Linked DNA regions of Homo sapiens: regions 2 and 3 are each reported to be linked to region 1. The links are microRNA targets in miRTarBase. Many come from high-throughput screens and were not tested one by one. Region 1 holds a microRNA gene; each other region holds the end of a gene's coding sequence.

The links. Region 1 holds the annotated microRNA hsa-miR-130a-3p (CAGUGCAAUGUUAAAAGGGCAU, at 4,467-4,488, opposite strand). A microRNA usually pairs through its seed, bases 2 to 8, with sites in the 3' UTR of a target mRNA and lowers its output. Matches are read on the target gene's strand: a 7mer-m8 pairs with bases 2 to 8, a 7mer-A1 pairs with bases 2 to 7 and ends in A, and an 8mer does both.
Region 2: miRTarBase lists MEOX2 as a target of hsa-miR-130a-3p. Seed matches in the 3' UTR shown: 7mer-m8 at 1,380-1,386 and 7mer-m8 at 1,533-1,539.
Region 3: the mRNA of SLAIN1 is a reported target of hsa-miR-130a-3p. Seed matches in the 3' UTR shown: 7mer-m8 at 5,565-5,571, 7mer-m8 at 4,975-4,981 and 8mer at 4,816-4,823.

The regions. Positions count from the first base shown.
Region 1 is chr11:57,638,223-57,645,739 of GRCh38, reverse strand. MIR130A (microRNA 130a) reads right to left here and starts at 4,542; the gene lies at 4,454-4,542. It overlaps YPEL4 (yippee like 4), which reads left to right. Exons shown (of 5, transcript NM_145008.3): 5 at 1-653. MIR130AHG (MIR130A host gene) reads right to left here and starts at 7,364. Exons shown (of 2, transcript NR_186232.1): 1 at 7,068-7,364. RefSeq lists enhancers at 1,971-2,470, 5,745-6,324 and silencers at 7,171-7,230, 7,251-7,440.
Region 2 is chr7:15,605,970-15,613,486 of GRCh38, reverse strand. It overlaps MEOX2 (mesenchyme homeobox 2), which reads left to right. Exons shown (of 3, transcript NM_005924.5): 3 at 876-2,275. The coding sequence ends at 1,100. Among named protein-coding and RNA genes, the nearest start is that of AGMO, 48 kb to the right of the region's middle.
Region 3 is chr13:77,761,436-77,768,952 of GRCh38, reverse strand. It overlaps SLAIN1 (SLAIN motif family member 1), which reads right to left. Exons shown (of 7, transcript NM_001242868.2): 7 at 4,724-5,808. The coding sequence ends at 5,733. Among named protein-coding and RNA genes, the nearest start is that of EDNRB-AS1, 54 kb to the left of the region's middle.

The DNA.
Region 1 (7,517 bases):
GGGATGGTTGTGGGTCTTTCTGTTCCCAAGATCCTGAACATGGAAGCGATGGCAGGGCATAGACTCAGGCAGAGAGGATTGTGGGAGGAATCCGTTTTTGCTCCACCTCTTTTTGAGTGAACAGAGGACAAACCTTGGGTCACAGGGCAAGTAGATCATGGACCACAGAACAGCAGATGAGAAAAGACTTGGGTTGGAGTGAAATTCTGGTCTCAGACACCAGGAGACCAGAGTCTCTGAGGATGAAGTTTCCTACCCCTATTTGTAGGGAAAAGGACTTGAGTGCAGGGAAAACTCAAATCCCAGGCCCTGGGAAATAGTAAAATAATCAAAGGGTTTTCCATTTCACTCCACTTGTTAGTTTATCTTGGCACTGAAGAGGCACTTTCGAGTATCTAACTTTTGCCATTGGGTGGGGTGGGGACAGCTGCTCGCGGAACAGCCCCTAGTCGGCTGCTTCCAGAGTAAGCAGTCTTTATGGGCTTTCTCTGAGGCCCAGTCACTGCTCCTGGGACCCAGTCCCCTGGAGGGGAGGTGGAAAATCAGTGCTACGGGGCCAGTCTTTCCCGTGGCTGCCACCAGCGAATGAAACTTTTGTATGATACATAAAGTGCTTGAGTCTATTTTTAATAAAAAGGGAAAAAGCAACTTGAGGCAACCTGTCCTCTGACTTTCTTTCCCTGTGCATGTACCCATAAACTGTCCCCGTCACACACACACACCCCCACCCACCCGGGCCTGTCCCTTTATACCACTAGGGGGCAGCAGTTGCCCTGTCTATGGCAAGACTACTGCTTGAGCTTTTACCGGGGAATAAGCGTTCAGGTGAAGTTTTGCCTTAGTAAGAGGGGTGGGTTTTGTTAGCTACTCGGCGAGAGCATCCAAAACCGCTTGTGTCTGCTGGCACCCCTGACAGTAAGTCCATTTTGCCTAGATCCAGGATCGGGCTCTGAAAGAGGCTCATCTCAGAATAAGGATTTTCTTGAGTCCCGTGGCTTTTCAGCCTGGTTCTGTAATGCTCTGGTCAGTTCATGGGCACACTTAAGGCTAAAAGGAAAATCAGTCAGCCAAAGTGCTGCTCTGGCAGTTGATGGGAAGTGAAACAAAATAGCTCAAAAATTAGGCCGGGCGCGATGGCTCACGCCTGCAGTTCCAGCACTTTGAGAGGCCGAGGCTGGTGGATCACCTGATGTCAGGAGTTTGAGACCAGCCTGACCAACATGGCAAAACCCCGTCTCTACTAAAAATTCAAAAATTAGCCAGGCATGATGGCACGTGCCTGTAATCCCAGCTACTTGGGAGGCTGAGGCAGGAGAATCACTTGAACCCAGGAGGCAGAGGTTGCAGTGAGCCAAGATCGTGCTGCTGCACTCCAGCCTGGCGACAGGGCAAGACTCCGTCTCAAAAAAAAAAAAAAAAAAAAAAAAAAAAAGCTCAAAATCGCAACATCAATGCCACCATATGACCCAAGGGACATTTTATTGGCAGTGGTATGAAATCCCTACTGTTGTTGGGTGCCCAACAGTTACAGGGGAGACCATATACATCATAAAGATCATTTTTTGGTAAGCTATAATATTCTTTCCAGATTCATTCATTAATATTCCAAATATTTATAAAGCATCTATTACTTGCCAGGCATTGTGTTAAGCACTAGATGTTAAGCACATGGTGAAGATAAGGCAGCTGTGACCTGACTTCCTGGAGCTTTCTGTCCAGTAGGAGATGCAATAACCAGGAAATCCCAGTAGAAGATGATAATAAGGGATCTAAGCAGGGACGTGGAGGAAGCTTGGGAGCTCATAGGAAAGGAACTCAGCTTAGATGTAAGGAGTCAAGGAAGGCTTCACAAAAGCGATGACTACGATGGCATTTGAAAGATAAGAAGTTAGGTAGGCAAAGGCAAAAGTGATGGAAGTATTTCAGACAGAGTATGTGTCAAGTAACTTAAGTTTAGTTAATTGAAGGAAATAAAAGTTGCTTGTGGGCTGAAAGCAGTGGCTCACGCCTTAATTCCAGCACTTTAGGAAGCCAAGGCTGGAGGCTTGCTTGAGGCCAAACTTTGAGGTTAGCCTGGGCAATATAGCAAGATCTTGTCTCAAAAAAAAAAAAGCCATACCTGCACCTGTAGTCTCGACTACTCAGGAGGCTGAGCAGGAGGATCACTTGAGCCCAGGAGGCTGAGGTTGCAGTGAGCCATGATCACGCCACTGCACTCCAGCCTGGGCTGGAGCAAAACTTTGTCTCCTTAAAAAGTGGGTGAGAGGACATGAAAGGAAAGAGAAGCAGGAGCCATAAACTATTTAGGGAATCTAGATTTAATCCCAATGGTATTAGGGAAATATGGGAAAATTATTGTTTTTTAGAGTGGAGTGGCAGTATCAAATGGCTATTTGTGCCCAGACAAGAGGCTCAAATAGAAGTTTTAATAGACTGGAGAAAGTAAGGAACATATGGTAGGGTGCGGTGGCTCACACCCGTAATCCCAGCACTTTGGGAGGCTGAGGTGGGCGATCACTTGAGGCCAAGAGTTTCAGACCAGCTTGGACAACAAAAATTAGCCAGGCATGGTGGTGCACGCCTGTAATCCCAGCTACTCAGGAGGTTGAGGCAGGAGAATCACTTGAACCTGGTAGGCAGAGGTTGCAGTGGGCCGAGATCGCGCCACTGCACTCCAGCCTGGGCGACAGTGAGATTCTGTCTTAAAAAAAAAAAAAAAAGGGAAATAAAGCTAACTGTACTATCTCAAATACTGTTGTTGTGATCAGAATGGAGAGGCTGTCTGGGCAGGAGAAAGGAGGACTAGAACTGGAAGGCACAGAAGTAAAAGGGCAAGGGAAAAAGGCAAGCCATGGAGAGATGTCCAACATCCCTCAACTAAGGCCTCAGGGGAGTCTGACCCATCTTTCAGTTTCTACATGCCTCATGATGCCAAGATCCCTCTCAGGGTCCAGCAGAGGACCTCAAAACCCTATTCCTCTTGGACCCATTTCTTGCACCAAAGTTTAGGGAAGATTTCTCAAGTCCCAAACTCTGCTGTTGAAAACCAGGCACAAACTAGCTGCCTTCTTCACTTGATCTTAGCCAAAAGACCAGGAATACTAGCTGCCTTCTTAAAGAAGCTCCCCAAATATTCCTCTCATTCAATTTATTTTAACAAGTTTTAATTAAGCCTACTAGGCACTGTGGGAGACAGAGAAGTAAATGGCTGAGTCATTGCTCTCAAATTTTTCTTTCTTTTTTTTTTTTTTTGAGATGGAGTCTCGCTCTGTTGCCCAGGCTGGAGTGCAGTGGCGCAATCTCGGCTCACTTCAACTTCTGCCTCCAAGATTCATTCAAGAGTCTCCTGCCTCAGCCACCCAAGTAGCTGAGACTACAGGCGTGCATTACCACGCCTGGCTAATTTTTGTATTTTTAGTAGAGACGAGGTTTCACCATGTTGGCCAGGCTGGTCTTGAACCCCTGACCTCAGGTGATCCGCCCGCCTCGGCCTCCCAAAGTGTTGGGATTACAGGCGTGAGCCACCGCACCCGGCCTCAATTTCCTTGTAATTGGTCCTGGGAGAATCATTCTGTGGGTTGATTCAAGGGATCCTATTAATCTTTAAGATTAAGTCATGGGCAACGCTGTCCAAATCTTGGATGCCCAGACAGGTGTGCCCTCAAGCAGCATTACCATCAAACACCCCGTGACCAAGAGGGAGTGGTGCTGAGAAAGGTAAGTGGATTCAGGGAAGGAGTGAGGTCTTTCCATGCCTCATGAGCCAGGGAAGGAGCTGTAGGTATGGGATGCCAGCAGCACACAGGTCCTTTTCTTTGGGGAGCAATCCTCTCGAGTTAACCCCCTTTCCTTTCTGGTGCATTCCTTTTTTTCTCAAGGAGGCCTACTCTGTACCTAATAGTGATTCTCCTAATCTTTTTCCACTCACTCTCCATTCCGGGCTGAGTCTGGGAATGCTTATCCTTCTTAGCCTAAGGAGTTGCCACCACTTCTGGTCCTTAAAGGTTTGAGGCTTTGGAAGATATCCTCATACAACCAGCAGATGGCATCAAAACCTTCCACCCCTCAGCTCAGGAAATCTCCCAGTTTGAAGAACCTATTCAGATCTCTCCAGATGGGTCTACAAAAAGATGAGTGAGCTGTCAAGACTTAACACAGGGTTGTATCTAGGCTTTGCAACCTAAGAGCTACACAATCTTAGCCAAACTGTTTAAACCTTTCTGACCCTCAGTTTTTCATCCATAAAATGGGGCTGTTACCTCCCAGAAGTTATTAGGTTTCACAGTAACGGAGGCAGTGTCTATCACAAGCACTGCATACAGAAGTAGTTCCATAAATGAGAGCTATTAGTATAACTAACAAGTGAGGCTACCCAGATTCCCACCAGGGTAGCTGACTGGTGCCCAGATGGGAGAGGAATTGCAATGCTGAGGAGGCAGCCAGCGCTGGGTAGCACTACACGGCCAATGCCCTTTTAACATTGCACTGCTAGTGACAGGTGCAGACAGTAGCACAATGTGAAAAGAGCTCTGGCCAGCAGCAGAGGCATGCCGGCCCTGCCTCCTCACTCCTTCTCCCAGTCCCTGGCCCACTCAGCTCACGGGCTCCCTCTGCCCCTTCTTTGCTTCAATACAGCTTTTTTCCCTTTTATTCCATTCTTAGTGTTCATTCTATTTTTTCACCACTCTTCCTTTTGCCGCCTTCTTCACCAACCCCCTGACCCCCAGCACAGAGACCACCTTTTTCTTGGAGGTTTTGGCATGGGAGGACAGGACCCACTAAAGCAGCTGCAGGGATACTTCGGGCTTGATGCTCAGTCCTCAAAGAAAACGGCTATTAGCAATCCCCAAAGTCTGGAGGTCACTCGTATGAGGCTGTGTTCATCTGGATTTGCATTTCCGCTAGCTTACCTTCTAGAGAGGAGCTTGCTGCCCAAGACTACAGAACCCTCTACTCTTCTCTAAGTTTCCATCTCCTTTTAAATTTAGATAAAGCAGAGCTCTAGGCCTCAAGGCAACACTCTCAGATGACCTTCCAGGACCAGAGAGGTGGGAGCCTGTAGTCACAGCTCCCCACGCAGTAGAGAGAAGCTTCCAGGCGGGGAGGTGAAAGCTGCTGGTGAAGCCCCACCCCTGCATCTCCTTTTGGAGGTCCTGAAAGCACTTTGCAGATTCAGCATTAAAATGGTGAGGGTGATTCGCTCACAGTTACTGAGAGTTAGGGATAGGCTTTCACTGGCAGTGGGATTCACATCTGAGTTATTTCCTGTCTTATCCAGGGACCCTTGGTTGGGGAGTCTTCAAGCTCATCCTAGCACTTCCCCATCCTATCCAACCCTAAGGGGGCTTAAATACAGGACAAACAGTCCCCGGAAGATTAACACCCAAAGCCAGAAAGCTGCCCTGGAAGGACACCTGGATATCTGGAGGCTCAGACCCAGGCAGGCTCTATTGTGGCACATTCCAGCTAGGGCCACAGCCCCGGAGCCCAGCTCCAGTTCTGACCCAGTGAACTTTGGGCAGCCCAGAGAAACAGAGGCTGGAGGGTGATTCCTCCAGTGCCCCGATCAACGAAGGGGAGATGCCTTCTTCCCTAATCCACAGCCACCGTAAGGAATAGAGGACAGAATTCCAGTTGGGAGCTCTTCCTCTGGGCTTCCCTCTAGCCTCGTCCCACCCCCTCAGGAAGCAGGAGACGTTCCCTCCCGCTCTCCCCGGCAGAGTTTGTTCCCGTAATCTGCAAACATGGGGCCCTGCCCTACAGTTTTAATGGGCGGAAACCAAGACCCCTCGAGGGTCAGTGACCTCTCTGCTCTGGGGTTGGGCAAACCAGGCCCAGCTGGGAACTGGATCACACCAACAGGGGGCAGAGGGGCAAAGATAAGGCTGCACAGCAAGCTTCAGGGAGGCCAGGGGAAGATTCTTCCCCAAGAAGTTTCCAGGTCTCTCCTTAGGGAGTGCAGGGAGAAAGGGCCAAGAGCCCCTCAGCTCTCACACACCCAACTCATTCCTGAGGAGCAGGCCCAGCGACTCACCAGCCAGCAGGACCCCTCCCCCACCTTGGGCCCAGGAGCCAGCCCCCAGCTCCTTCCAGAAGCGAGTGTAGAGACCGAGGAGGAAATGGGGGAGGGGAGGCCCCGGCTCAAGTTCTCTCCTCTCCCCCTCCTCATTGGCCACCATCTTCCGGCCCCTGCCCCCAGAGCAGCAGGGGATGGGGCCCAGCCTGTGAAAGGGAGAGAAAGGGCAGGTGGGGGGTTAGCTGGAGCAGCAGGGGCAGGGGGCTGGCCCCAACTGTCTCCTCCCACCCCCTCCTCGCAGCCATGGCGACGGGAGGAGGAGACCAGGAGGGTCCTGAAAGCCATGTTCTGTGAATGGGATGAGAGAGGCAGCTGGGAAGTGGGGGGTGAGGGGCGCTCTCCTTCAACACCCAACTGTGCTCCCCCCGAACACACACACCTCGAGGCTGGACCACACAGGCGCACGTACACACCACACACACACACACACACACACACAAACTCTCAGCCATACTTGCTGCACAACTCAGCCCTCATTACACACCCAAACAACAAGAACTGGAGTGTGAGCGCACGCCCCCCACACACACACATCCCCGCACCCCTCAACACCCCACAACTATCAGCTCGAAAACCAGCCTCACACCCCCACACCGCCCCTGGCTCACCCTACAACTTCTGGAGGTGCAGAACTCCCTGCCCTGCTCCAGCCCTTCGGCCCCCGGTCCCCCTCGGAACACTCCACGCCCTCGCACACAACCCAGGTGGAGACAGATGGCCCAGCTCGGCCGTGCCCAGCGGAGCCCCCCATCCCTACCCCACCACGCCCCCCACTGGAAAATGACAGTGAGGCCACCTCAGAAAGACACGCCTGGTGCTTCCCAGTTACAGTGTTTCCAAAGGAAAAAATAGAAAAGATGCCCACGAGTGGAGAATGAGGAGGGAAAAAGGAAGACGAGAGAAAGAGCCCAGACCGTCCCCCTCCCTTCCCCAAGAGAGAATAAAACCGAAAATCGGTGTCGTTACCCTTCGGGAAGCTCTCGATACCTACACATTGCTCTTCGTTAGGATCCTCTGCCTGCCACCTCCTTCTTCCCGGGCTCTTTCTCTGCCCTTCCCTCCCTCTTGGCTCCCCTCCCTGGCCTCGCTCCCCCTCGCTCACGCCCTCTCGCACCCCGCCAGCCCCTCTCCCGGGCCGGGCTTGGATCCCCAGCGGCCGCCCCGCCACCCGCCGGCCGGGACCGAGGTTGCGAGGCCGGTGGGCCGCGGAGACCCTCTCCTCTGCCGATCTCGCTCTTCCCCCCTCGCCCCCTTTCTCCTTCCACACTCCCTGCCGTCCATCTTGAATACTTGGGATTCTTGAATGGAGTGAGCAGGATCCGCTCCCCCAGGCTCCCATTGGCTGTGGGTTAACCCTTTTGAAACGAGATCCTCCCTCCCATTGGCTGCCAGGCTCCCCTCTTCTCCCCCAACCCCCATCCCCTCCGCCTCCCAACAGTCC
Region 2 (7,517 bases), not on the chromosome of region 1:
CAGATTTCCTCCTAAACAAGATGCAATAATGCCAATTATATTCTAGTTCTGATAATGTATAGACCTTTAATGTCTGTTTGCTGTTTTTTTTGTTTTTAATACATATATGTTATTTAAATATATATATTTATTTAAATGTATTAGGCAAATTCAATGAAGCTTTTAAAAAGAAAATACCTGTACAAAGCTGATGTGAATGATGTAGTATATAATCTTGGTGTTAGCATTTAACAAATGTTGAGAATTTTTTATTGTGACCATATTTTAAAGAAATCACTAGATCAAATATTTGCAAAGTAAAATAAATGAATTAAGGTAGAAAATAAAAAGAAGAGTTCAAAAGAAGATAGGCTCAGTGTGAGGTGGAATGGTCAAATAAAGATTTGTGAAAGCAGCAGTAGTTTCTGATGGCAGAGTATGGCCTTTCAGATGCCGCTTAATCAGTAGCTGCAGGAGCATGTTTTAAATTGGTTCAGGAAATGACAGCTGGATGTCAAATCAAAGAAGAACTTAGGAGTGGGGGGCTTTGACCAACACAAATATTATGTTAGCTCCAATTCACAGAAGCTCTTTATAGACGCAAGTGCTTTGAGTGCCTTAAATGACAAAGTTTTTGTTTAGTTCCATATTTTACATTGTATGCTGTAAAATACAAATATAGTACTTTGTATGCACCTTTTGAAACTTTAAAAATTATTATCATGAACATGTAACCTGATTAAATTCAACGTGGATTTATTTTTCTATTCACTCCTTCATGGTGTCTTTGTATAAGCCTTTGAGGAACTTCTTTTCATTGATGACACTAAGGAGAAAAAAATGTCACTTTAATTATCTCTTTTTTTCTGTTTGTTTGTTCCCTTTCTTGGTTGAAGGTGAAAGTCTGGTTCCAAAACAGGCGGATGAAGTGGAAGAGGGTAAAGGGTGGACAGCAAGGAGCTGCGGCTCGGGAAAAGGAACTGGTGAATGTGAAAAAGGGAACACTTCTCCCATCAGAGCTGTCGGGAATTGGTGCAGCCACCCTCCAGCAAACAGGGGACTCTATAGCAAATGAAGACAGTCACGACAGTGACCACAGCTCAGAGCATGCGCACTTATGATATAAACAGAGGACCAGCTCCATTCTCAGGAAAGAAATGTTGTGATGGCAAGCCTTACCCAAATATCGTTTACACAGAGAGATGACTATGGCAGTGATGTTTAATATTATTAAATCCAGGCATTTCGAATCTGTTTTTCATGATTTATAGAGGGTTTACACAAAGTGCCACTTATTAAAGAGCTTCCACAGTGAAGATGGAGAAGGTGAACTTGCTTTGAATATTCCAGATGTGTTTGGTCGTGCGTATGGCAGTGAGCAGGTATGTGTTTGCTTTTGCTTGCACTGAAAATTAAATTGCTATCAAGAGCAAACTATGAACGGTTTTTTATTCAAGATGTCTCCAGAGTGAAGATGCCGAGGATGAACTTGCATTGAACATTCCAGATGTGTGAGATCATGTGTATTACAGTGGGCAGGTATTTGCTTTTGCTTGCACTGAAAATTAAATTGCTATCAAGAATAAACCATGAAACATTTTATCCTGAACAGCCACAGTGCCTGAATTCACTCAAGTGGATAAAAAGTGTATTTTAACTCTGTATATATTACCCTTAAGTCATTTTCCTGTCTTCACTAATTTAGCAATGCATTCATATTAGCTGATGAAAATAGGCACTCACAATGACAACCAGAGCCAGTTTCTTGTCTTTTTTATACATTTTGTCATCCCAGAGACAATCAGTATGTGCTTACCTGTGTTCAAGTAGAGAAAAATACAGTAGAGTCTGATAGGACATATTCTTGTACCACAGACAAAACAAATCTTATGTTGCATTTACTATCAACTGCTGCTAATACGTTATTATAAAACTTACCTAGCTCCTGAATTCTTCCTATCTTATAGCTTAAAACAATTAGGATCATAGGCAAATCAGTTACCTTGCAGAAAGAGCTTTGTATGACAGACATTGTCTTATTTTATTTCTGTAAAATATTAGCTGTATGAATATGATTTAATTAACAAGAAAACATTTCTTCCTGATTGACAACAGTGTTAGACAAGGTGCAAAGCGAAACTGGTTGCTCAAGTTGATAGAAAACAAAATTCTGAATATCTTCAAATTAAATTCGGTAAAAACACATTATTTTTTCATATGTGATGTATTCATGCAGAACAACTATCTTTGTATTTTGTTTTTAAAATGTGTTTAATAAATGATCCTTTGTAAATAACTTTGGTCTCCCTACATTAATTTTCTTAATTTTTATAGATTTCAATATCAATGATTAACAAAGTCTCAAATCTATCTGCACTTGTGCAAATCCAGATGATTATAATTAGTGGATTATTTACATTTTTTCATTTCTGAATTTTTTTATTATGGCAGGAAAAAAATAAATCCTTGTGTAATCAAAGGGCGCCTAAGAATGGGCATATATTAAGCTATTTCTCTAATTTGAAGAATACAGTGAATGGATTTTTTTGTGTGTTTTATGAAGCCACAGATAAAAGTAGGAAAAAAGTATTAAATAATAGTATTCACCACAGTGAGGAAAATAAAATAGTCATACATTTTTAAAGTTATGTCTGATATATGTAAGTTAATCCAACAGTGGTTTTATAGTCTGAATATGCAGAGTCTCTGATGTGAAATATAAGCTAAAGAAGCTAATCAGAGTCCTCAGTTCTAATGGGACTAATGCAAGAAGTAAAGGATGCTATTAACATAATGTATTTTGCATCATGCATGATTGCACACGCATGGGGTGCCTTAGTCCTACTTATAGCTTTATCACATTGTTTTTCATTTGTTTCATATTCTAAGCAGAAATGCTTGGAAACATTGCCAGCCTTCCTCCCCTGCCTCAATCCGAAACAAATACAGAAAAACAATCAGTAAAAATTTCCAAAAACCCATCAGTTAATTGATTACACTTGCTTTAGAATGATCAGACTGACAAAAATTAATTTGATATATTTTAACTTAATCTAGCGTGATATATAGAGAGTATCCCAGAAATAAATAATTTTTTTGTATCACATTTTCCTTTCATGTAATACATTTTACCTCAGTAGTTGTCAGTATTTTAAAATTAACTGAGAATAGACCATTCGAATTGAGGTCTCCCAGGCATGAAACAGACACTTTTCCATTAATCACCTGAATTAATACAAAGTCTGCTTGTGCTGATGACATCTACTTGGGTGGACTGACTTTCTTACTGTAGAAGAGGATTTAAATTCAAAACATCTTGACAAATTAGTGAAGTGGGAAGATATGAATCAAATTGAGTTCAATAGGGACAAAGTGGAGGATAATTCATTTGGGCAGGAAAATAATTTCCAGAAATAAGAGAAAAGGACCCCTTAGAAGTAGCTAAAAGGAGAGCTAATGGTTGTAGCCAAATAGACGTAAGAATTCCAATGTAGTAAGAAAATGAAATAGGAAAAAGGGATTCCGAATAGATATAACATTCGGGAAATGGGAGGTTTTTGTATCATGGCCATATCTTTATTAGAGAATTGTAAGCAATCCTGAAATGAAATTTGATCCAGAGAACACAAAGTGGTAGGAAAGGCCACATGGCTGACTGAAAAGAGACATCACTTTCTTTATGATGAATTAAAATGATCTGCCTGCCGCATAAGACACCTGACACATTATCACATTGTCAACACACTGACAAACAGGGAAGCCAGAGTAATTTTTATTAGTGGAACTTGCCATCTTTTTAAAGTATTTCAGTATCCTCCTGTCTTCAAACTGATGCATAGGTTAGCTACATTATACCCCAATATCCTTTTGGAATTAAAATTCTTTGAGGAAAATTAAGATATTCTCATGAACTATCTGGGTTTAATTCACTCCAAAGGTGCCAAAAATCTGAAAGAACTCTACTTGTTTTTAATCTACACTGGGTTCCTGGCATGCCATGGTATCTTATTGCATAATGCCCTTTTCGTGTAATTCTATCTCAGACCCTGTGGCTCTGTGGAAATTCATAACAGCATGAAAGCACCTTTCTCTGAAAATAGTATGAAATCATGGTTAGGATGATTTTTTTTTCAGTAGGATTCAGAAGGATGAACACTACAAAGTTTTTCCAAAGACTGATCCACATATTTTTAACTCATTATTCACACGACCCCAATTACTTCCTACTTCCCATATTTACCATCTGCTGTCAGACTATATTTTCCTCTTCAGAAACCATACATAATACCTGAGTTTGTCATTTTGTTTTTTTAATTTGAAATAAATGCATTTAAAATAATCCCAATCACATTTTTAATATGCTTATGAATGCCATTACATGTAATAAATGTGGGAATCACTTGTGAAATTCAATAAAAGCTTTTCTCAGACTAGTAAACTAAGATCAGAGGCCAACTTGGCCGGGCGCGGTGACTCACGCCTGTAATCCCAGCACTTTGGGAGGTCGAGGCGGGCGGATCACGAGGTCAGGAGATCGAGACCATCCTGGCTAACACGGTGAAACCCCGTCTCTACTAAAAATACAAAAACGAAAAAAAATTAGCTGGGCGCGGTAGAGGGCGCCTGTAGTCCCAGCTACTCGGGAGGCTGAGGCAGGAGAATGGCGCGAACCTGGGAGGCGGAGCTTGTAGTGAGCCGAGATCGCGCCACTGCACTCCAGCCAGGGGGACAGAGCGAGACTCCGTCTCAAAAAAAAAAAAAAGATTAGAGGCCAACTTAAAACAAAGTAAGTTATAAAAATAAATATTTAGTAAGTTATAAAAATAAATATTTTATATTTCCAATGCTACTCGTTTTTGAGAACATTTCTTAAATTCCTGGCGTACTGATGACAGCAGATGCTAATTTTCGCCTGACAGAAGTTTTGAGAAACTATACAGTTAAAATCAGTCTCAAGAACAGAGTATCCTGGTAGTGACTGAAAAGATTTAAAGAAAGTATTTTTCACTTTAATTTCTAAATACACTGAGGCTGGTGACTTTTAAGAAGCAGCCATTTATGCCATGACCTATTTTCTAATAAAATGCTTTTAAAATAATTCAGTTCATATTTGAGGTGACTAGTATTTAGACTATAATATAATATTTAAAATATGAACAACAAATACTTACCTGGCATAGTTCTTTGAACTATTTGGGGGAATAACTGTATTTTCTTGGCAGCTCTCTTTGTTGCATTCTTTCAGTAAAAAGCAATCTAGAAAGAAAAATAAATTTCAGCTACAAACATTCCAAATCTTACAAGCGTGGAATACGCAGGATTGATCTGCAAATACTGTCATAAAAGTGGCTTTTTTGGTTATGTTTTTATATCTCCTGCCTAAAGCTGGTCAGGGTAATGAATAACAATCCTCATGGGCACCTCAACATTTCTGCTTTCAACTCTTGCAAAATGTTGCTAGAAGTCGTAGACAAAGGAACAAAAATGGCTCCAGAAAACAGGATTGCTACACCAAACTCTAAGAACCTATAAAAATATGCGGCTCAAAATTTAAATATGTTTTTTTCTTTAAGTAATTCTCTGATATCATGTATTTTTACAATACTCTTATCTTCACATTTACGATGGTTAAATACATTGAAAGTATATTTAAGACTAAAAATTTTTTTATGAATTATTTTTCCCCTTAATAGCTAAGTTTTATTCAAATGCAGCTTAAAACTGTGGTTTGAAAAATTCCAGAAAACTTTTGATTGCATCACAATGTATTCAGCCAGCTCAGTAATCCCCCATTAAAATATTGTTTACTTTGGTTACAGATGGTTTTCAGAAACAGCTCCCAAAATAGAATGAATTTGCAAATACAAATTATTGTCACATTCATTTCATGGAAGAGATGATACAGTGATTTGAGGACATAGTAATATCAAGTTTAGGCTGTACTTTGTATTTCTGTACTTCAAATAGTGATTCACTGAAATAGACATGTATTTTTTTAAATTAAAGAGTAATCAGATGCTTTGGGAACAATCAATTGTCCTATAATTAAGTATAGGCTTTGTTTCTGCATATGTGTAATAACTATAGTTGAAAACATTAAAAATTTTCTTTTCCTCAATACATATTAATTTTAAAAACAATGATTAGAAAATACTTGTCATTAAGGATAGGTAGTTTTTTTTAAAATTACCACTGCTGGCTTTGTTTTTCTTTAAAGAAAGGCGGTTTATTCTACCTTTTCCTGAATATACTACTGTCAATAAAGGAAAACAATCAGTCAAGATCCTTCTAATTTTCCTATTTGATGAAATGTTGGACTCAAACTGTTATTTAGGGTCAAGCTATTAATTCAATTGGATTATTTCTTTGGCTTTTATTTTTCTAGGGCAGAGTTTAATTATTTTCTTTGGACTCATCGACAGTGAAATACAGTAATTTTTCATGATCACAGATATATATGGTGTAAGCAGGTGTTTAGGTATTTAAAAGCAGCAAAAAATGTTGAAAGAAAAGTGGATGCTAAACTGATAGAGAACTTAAAAATACTTCTTGAATTGTTCAATAGCAAAAAAAGAAATTGGCTCATGAAATTGCACGTTCTATAAAAGTATCACCAACTCAACTTCTTTTAGAAGAACGTGTGAAATAAGCCTTTCAAAGTTGCCTCTGACTACCACATTTTTGGGCAAATTTTTGCTTACTGGAGGCATGTGATTGTAGCCAGTGTCAAAGAATGATGATTGGGCAAAATCTTATCATTTGTATCTGAAATAAAATATTTGCTAAATGTTATGAAATAAAAATCAAAGGAGATATATCTTGTTTGAATTCAATTTAACAACAGACCACAAATCGGATTGGTTAAATGAAGAGATGTTCAGTAGTGACCATATTCTTCTCTGGAAACCTCATATAGATTTAGGTGTCCTTGCTAACAACATATTACACTTGATCTTAGCCAAAAGGCTGAGAAGCAATGCTAACATACATTAAATCATGTTCAGATATTTCCTTATGATAAACGCTTTTTTAAAAAAGAACATATAAGACAAACCTTTTTATTCACATGATACATAGTTTTAGAAAATATATATCTGTATAAATGTATATTTTTAAATAATTTTGGAAATATACCATATATGCTGCTCTGTAAGCTAAGGTGTTTCTTTGCATAATAATAAAATATAAATATATTTAATAGCTGAACAGTATTTCTTTTTATGGATCTATGATATGCTATTTAATAATCCCTTACTATTGGATATTTTTTTCTCCAAGTTTCCCTTTAATAACATTGAAGTGTTTTTTTACATAATTCTCTGTAAAATTTAATTTTTCCCATAAAGGGATTTTGTAGAAATTGTATTATTGGGACAAGAAAGTATGTTTATTATTAGGACTTTAAATATACATTATCAATTTTGTATTGCAAATTTACACTCATTCCAATACCTATTTCTCCATAAATAGGATAATTTTAATTATTAGAATTTTTAAAAATTATTTGCAATCTGATGATAAAGCATATTTTAATTTGT
Region 3 (7,517 bases), not on the chromosome of region 1:
ACTTTGAAACCACTGCCCTGGGACATCCGCTATCTATAATGTATTAAATTATTTCCTGTGCATTTAAAATAATAATAGTTATAAACCCTCCTGGGAAGAACTGTGAAAATAGTCACTACAACTATTTCATGTTCTGTAGAACTCCAGATGAAAAAGGTTGTGAAACATCTTCAGGACTAACTCTCCATCGTCAAGCCTTTGCTCATACTAGCTCCTTAACGATATTGAAGTGGCATCGTTTGTCTGGGGAAACACCCGAGGTTCGTTGTCTCGCACTAAGAAAAATGAAGACCACAAGGTGTGGGTTTAAGAGCGGAAAGTTTAATAGGTGAAAGAAACAAAAGAAAAGCTGCCCCATGTAGAGGGAGGGGGATTCCGAATGGATCTCCCTGTTAGCAGCGGGATGCGGTTGGTTTTATAGAGGGGCTCGAGGAGGCGGTATCTGATTTACATAAGGCCCAGGGGATTGGTTGGACCAGGTGTGACATTTACATAGCCCTCGAAGACGCTGGCCATCCCACTCTAATCTTTTATTATACAGATGGGGTTTCTACCTGGCCAGCGCCATGACACCTGCACATGTGGTGACAAGGAAAAGGGAAGAGAAAACCTCCATGTTGGATGCTTCTGGCACGGCTGCCGGCATTCACGTATGCAAGCTTCCAGTTGCTTATCTATGTTTGCAGCTTGATTTTTCAGGCTGCTTTTTTTTTGTTAGAAAAGAAATGATTTGGGGGCTGCCTTTTCATTAAAGGAAAACCTTACCAAAGACTCCTGTACCCTCACTAACTGCCTAAATAATTTAACTCCTATATTAATATCTACTGAGGTGACCCTTTTAATAGTATGATTTCTCCCCACCCCTATTTTCTCTTAACTCCTCTTGTCTTGATCTCCTCTTTTCCCCCACAGAACTTATGACCTAACCTGCAGTGATTTTCTTACCTGTTTATGGTTTCTCCCCAACAAGAATGTAAAAGCCAAGATGAAGGGATCTTTGTTATTTTATTGCAAGGGCTAAGCAGACTTTTTTGAATATAAATCAAACATTTGAATGGAGAACGAATCGAATCCTTTTTCTCTGCAGAATAAAAAGTGATTAAAAAAAATACCAGCTACCTGTGTTCATTGGAAGAGAGCATAGTTGTGGGGAAAAATAAGACTTTTGAGCCAGATAAACCTGGATTCAAAGGTAAGCTGCACTATTTAAACATTGCTAAATGTTTACCCAAGACTAATGTCACTAATATGGTTTGGATATTTTGTCCCCTCCAAATCTCATGTTGAAATGTAATCCCCAGTGTCGAAAGTGGGTTAGTGGGAGGTTTGTGGCTCATGGGACAGATTCCCTCTTGAATGGCTTGGTGTCCTCCCCAGGGTAATATGTCCGCATGAGAGCTCTAAAGAGCCTGGCACCTCCGCCCTCTCTCTCTTGTTCCCTCCCACCGTGTGATACACTGACTTCCCCATTTGCCTTCTGCCGTTATTGTAAACTTCCTGACTCCTCTTGGGAAGCTGAGCAAATGTTGGCACCATGCTTCCTGTACACTCTGCAGAACTGTGGGCCAGTTAAACCTCTTTTCTTTATAAATTACCCAGCCTCAGGTATTTCTTTACAGCAATGCAAAAAAATAAACACAGAAAATTAGTACTGAGGAGTAGGGCATTGCTATAAAGATAACTGAAGATGTGGAAGTGGCTTTAGAACAGGGTAACAGAGGTTAGAAGAGTTTGGAGGGCTAACGACAGGAAGATGAGAAAAAGTTTGGGACTTCTTAGAAACTGATTGGAATGGTTATGACTAAAATGCTGACAAGAGATATGGACAGTGAAGGCCAGGCTGAAGAGGCCTCAAATGCAAATGAGGAACTTATTGGGAATTGGAGTAAAGGTCCCCCTTGTCGCTCCTTAGCAAAGAGCTTGCTGCATTGTGCCGATGTCCTAGGAATCTGTGGAAGGTTGAACTTAAGATGACTTAGGGTATCTGGCAGAAGTTTCTAAGCAGCAAAACATTCAAGAAGTGCTGTGGCTGCTTCTAACAGCCTATAATCAGATACAGAAGCAAAGAGATGACTTAAAAGTCAGAATATATATTTAAAAGGGAAGCAGAGAGTAAAATTTGGAAAAGTCAGCCGGGTGCAGTGGCTCACACCTTGTAATCCCAGCACTTTGGGAGGCTGAGGTAGGCAGATCAACCTGAAGTCAGGAGTTTGAGAATAGCCTGGCCAACATGGCAAAACCCTGTCTCTACTAAAAATACAAAATTAGCCAGTGTGGTGGTGAATGTCTGTAGTCCCAGCTACTCTACTCTGGAGGCTAAGGCAGGACAATCACTTGAACCCAGGAGGTGGAGGTTGCAGTGAGCTGAGATCATGCCACTGCACTCTAGCCTGGACAACAGAGCAAGACTCTGTATAAAACAAAACAAAACAAAACAAAAAAATTGGAAAAGTCACAGCCTGGCCCTGTGGTAGAGAAGGAATCCAAGTGGCCTGTGGAGTAACCACTTGAGAGATCAGCATGACTGAAAAAGAGCGAAGAGAATAGGGAAAAGGCCTCAAATGTATTTCAGAAATCTCTGAGGCAGCCCAATGCATCACAGGCTCAGGAGGCCTATGGGGGAAGAATGGTTTAAGGGGCCAGGCCCAGGGCCCCACTGCGCTGTGCAGTCTCAGGGTATCGTTCCCTGCATCCCAGCCACTCTGGGCCCAGCCTCGGCTCAAAGGGCCACAGGCACACCTTGGGCTGCCTCTTTAGAGGGCAAGTCATGAGCCTTGGTGGCTTCCACATGGTGTTAAGTCTGAAAGTACACAGAATGCAAGAGTGAAGGAGGCATGGCAGCTTTCACCTAGATTTCAGTGGATGCATCAGAAAGCCTGGGTGGCCAGGCAGAAACCTGCCACAGAGGCAGAGCCCTCACAGCAGCCTCTACCAGGGCAGTGCTAAGAGCAAATGTGGAGTTGGAGGCCCCCCTGCAGAATTGCCACTGGGGATGGCCTAGTGGAGCTGTGGGAAGGGGGTTGCCGCCCTTCATACCCCAGAATGGTAAAGCCACTGGCAGTTTACATCCTGAGCCTGCAAAAGCTGCAAGCACTCAACTCCAGCCCATGAGGGCAGCCACATGAGCTGCACCCAGTAAAACCACAGAGGCAGAGCTGCCCAAGGCCTTGGGAGCCCACCCCTTGCACCAGTGTGTCCTGAATGGAGGACATGGGGTCAAAGGAAATTATTTTGGAGCTTTAAGATTTAATGACTACCATGCTGGGTTTCAGACCTGTATGTGGCCTGTTGCCCCTTTCTTTTGGCCAATTTCTCCCTTTTGGAATGGAAATGTTTGCCCAATGCCTGTACCACCATTATCTTGGAAGTAAATAACTTGTTTTCATAATACAGGCTCATAGGTGGAAGGAGATGAGTTTCACATCAGACTTAGGACTTTGGACTTGATGTTGGAATGAATTAAAACTTTGGGGGACTGTTGGAAAGAGAAGATTACATTTTGCAATCCAAGGAGGGCATGAGACTTGGGGGCCGGGGTAGAACGATATGGTTTGTATATCTGTCTGCTCCAAATCTCATGTTGAAATGTGATCCCCAGTGTTGGAGGTGGGGCCTGGTGGAAGGTGATTGGATCATGGGGGCAGATCCCTCATGAACGGCTTAGTGCCATCCCCTGGGTGATAAGTGAGCTCTTGTTCTGAGTTCACACAAGATCTTGTTGTTTTTTTAAAAAGTGTAGAAACCCCGCCCCACCCCTTGCTCTCACTCTCACCATGTGATGCACCAGCTCCCCCTTTGCCTTCCGCCATGACTGTGAGCTTTCTGAGGCCTCACCAGAAGCCAAGCAGATGCTGGCACCACGCTTCCTGTACACCCTGCAGAACTATGAGCCAATTAAACCTCTTTTCTTCATAAATTACCCAGTCTCAGGTATTCCTTTATAGTGATGCAAAAACTGACAAATAATCACCTCTGTGGGACTTAGTGTCTTCATCTTTAAAATGGTGATAATAGTAGGTGAAAGTTAGTCCTAGACAAATGTATATAAAATATCTTGCACAGTTCTTTTGACTGAAGGGGTGCTTAATAAATATTACTTCCCTTTTCATATCTTACCTCCTCTAGCTCACATTCCACTTAAAGTGCAAGTTATTTAAACAAACATTCCTTTTAGTTCTAGAGAGAATTACATACAAAGGTACACTTTAAAAAAACTAAAAACCTCTAATGACTATAGGTAGAACTCCATTTCAAAACCTAACCTAAAAATCTTTGCCTAAACTTCCCACAGTACCTTCAAGTAAAGTTTTCCAACATATATCAAATATAATGCAGAATAAGGATAGTACTTGCTATTTTACTGATACTGAGAAAGTATTTCAAATTCAACTCCTATAAAATATTAAAATCTCCACTGACAATGTTCATCTGTAAATGTGTTTCTCAGCAACATGCTGCGTGAGTTTTAGTGGCCTCTTTAAATGGACCTAAACCTCCCTGTAAAACTACCTAACTAAAACTAATGTAAGAAAAATCATACAATTCTTATCAGGAGTACTTGGGAAAAGAAGAATAATTTTACAAATGTGAATATTCTAAGTCTACCTGCTTGAGATATAAATGCCCTGCACAAGAACAGAGTAACAATAAGCATTTTCACAATTGTAGTGAAACACATGTGTAGTTACACTGTTTATGCTGTACATTCATGCATGACCTGATATTGCTGAAATAGAGTCTTTATTTCTGAACATTCCAAAACAGCAGTGTACACAGTAACAAATATTAAGTTATATGCCATAAGAAAGCATTCATTAGTGCAAATGGATTTTGTAAAAGGTCTATCAAAAAGATTTATTTGCTTTAAAATGCATTCATTTCCAGAAGCATTGTTAATAAAACATTACAGTTTCATCCTTCGTAATAAAGTATTGAAAATCAATTGTGGTACAGTAGCAAACATTGCAGGTATTAAGTGCAATGAGCTCATGATGCCGTTATAAATATGAAACCCATGTATGACAATAAATTAAAAATGAAAAAGACAGGACCATTTAATTCTGCTGTCTGGTTATCTCCTTGCAATGCTTCAAATTATGTTGTGCTCATTCAACACAAAATTATGTGTCTCAAATTGCATGATGTGTTTTTGCTGATATATCCCTAGAGCTAAAAAAATAGTACCTTACCACAAAAATATTTTTATGGCACAAAATTTAAGTTGTTCCATAGTGGTTCACATAGGTGTAAAAAGAAATAGGCACAAAAAATAAAATTCCTGTAAACTATAAAAAAGTAAATTTCAAAGCATACATTATAGAACCTAGTTGTCAATATGCAATGTATTAAAATACAGAACATGTAATGGAAAGATGTTTAGAACACGTGAGTAAATTGAACAAGTTACTTTAAAAAACTCATATGGCAAAGCATTATTGATACATCTTAATTCTCTCAAAAAGTATTCAGGTACAGAGCAGTTCTACAAAAACTTCCTAGATCTAAGTGTCACAATACTGCAACCATGGGTTTGAGAATGTTGCAGTATCTCAGGCAAATATTTAAGTGCAATAATTAGTCTCTGGTGACTGGTCCATTGAGAAACAATGCAGTAAATATATTAAAACACAAAAGGGAAAGAATATCCCAACATCCACTGCTACCCAGCCAGCTAGGTAACACAACCCTCATTTTTACTTCTTTCCCATTTTTCAAGGGTACATAAAACTGCATTAGTAGCAACCATCTCTCCAATTTCCATCCCTCAGAGTGCTGAGTGAAGACAGAGGCTTTGGAGGCTGAAGAAAACTAAAAAGAGACAAGAAAAACAGAGAGAGAGATTGTTAATAATCCTATGAGTCACATCACTCACTTTGACCTACTCTCCCATCTATGTTCTTCCACTGCAGTAATGAGAAGCCACTGGCACCATCTCAAGTGTACCTTGTGGTTCACACTTACGGGTCTTCACTGCATGCTTATCTCCCAGAGCCCCAGTTCATGGCAAAGTGTCATGCATGTTGTATTTGCACAAGAAAATTTGCAACATAAATAAAGGGGCCAATACCCTTAATGTATAAAACATATTTTAAAATAAGAAAAATATAGGATCCTGGCTAGAAAAATGACCTAAAAACATAAATGGTTACTCTGTTGAATACAAACAGCAAATGAATATGAAGACATTTTCAAAACCTTATTAGTAATTGAAGATTTGCCTATCATATTCGCAAAACATTTAAAAAGAATCTTTGGCTGAGTGCAGTGGCTCACATCTATAATCCCAACACTTTGGGAGGCCGAGGCAGGAGGAAAACTTGAGGCCAGGAATTCAAGACCAGCTTGGGCAACATAGCAAGACCTTGTCTCTACAATTTTTTTTTCAAATTATCTGGGAGTGGTGATATGCACTGTAGTCCTAGCAAGGCAGGAGGATCACTTGAGCCCAGGAGTTTGAGGTTACAACAAGCTACAACCATAACACTGCACTCCAGCCTGGGCAAAAGAGCAAGACCCTGTCTCTAAAAAGAATAGATAAAATAAAAAATTTAAATTTAAAACAATTAAAAAGAATAATACCTAGCATTTGCTTAAGTTTGGGGAAATAGACCATCTCACATTGTCTAGCAGTGACCTTTCCAAGAGTTTAGTTTGGAGACACATAGTCAAGGATAAATGTATGGTCTACAATAACCATATACATCAAATAATGTGATTCTAGTCAGCCATCAGCATGATGACACAGCTCTGCATTTACAAAGCAGAATAAGCCAAAACTTACTGAATAAATAAACATGTACCAAAATTATTTCTATCTGGCAGTAGGATTATGGGTCAGTCTTTACTTTTCTATTTTTCAATAGTTTCTGTTTTTCGAAATTTGTTGTTGATCTGAGCATCTATTACTTCTAAACAAACAAAACAAAATAAAACTATTTATATATCCATAAATGCATAAAGACAGAAAAAAATTGCTTGTTCCACCTCTTTCAAACTTTTTACTATGGTTTTCTCCTTCTCCTTCATATCCTAATTTCTTGAAAGAGCTGTCTGTATTTATTGTCTTTATTTCCTCATCTACCAATCTCTCCTCAAACCACTTTTATGGATTTTTAATATAAGATACTCCATGATATCCAGTTCAAGAAGGGAACATCATGACCAAGAGCTAGACTAAATGTCCTTTGAAGTACTCTGAAACTTTGAAGGGAAAAAAAAAAAATTACTACCTGGACCATACTGAACTTACCAACATAAGCTGATAAAGCCCCAGGTGAATGTCATTAAGATGCTTTTCAAACCATAAATGTGTGGGAGGAGGGTGTGCGTGTGCACATACGCCTGACACATTTTTCCATATTTTGATTAAAAATGACTGATTCAACAAATATTTGAGATCCTACCTGTATTGGGCATAGTTCTTGGCATCGGGGATACACAGCAATGAACCAAAAAGTCAACCTCCCCCCGCCCTACAATTTTTGGATAGAGCTGCCATCTGAGCAAAGACCTGAGGG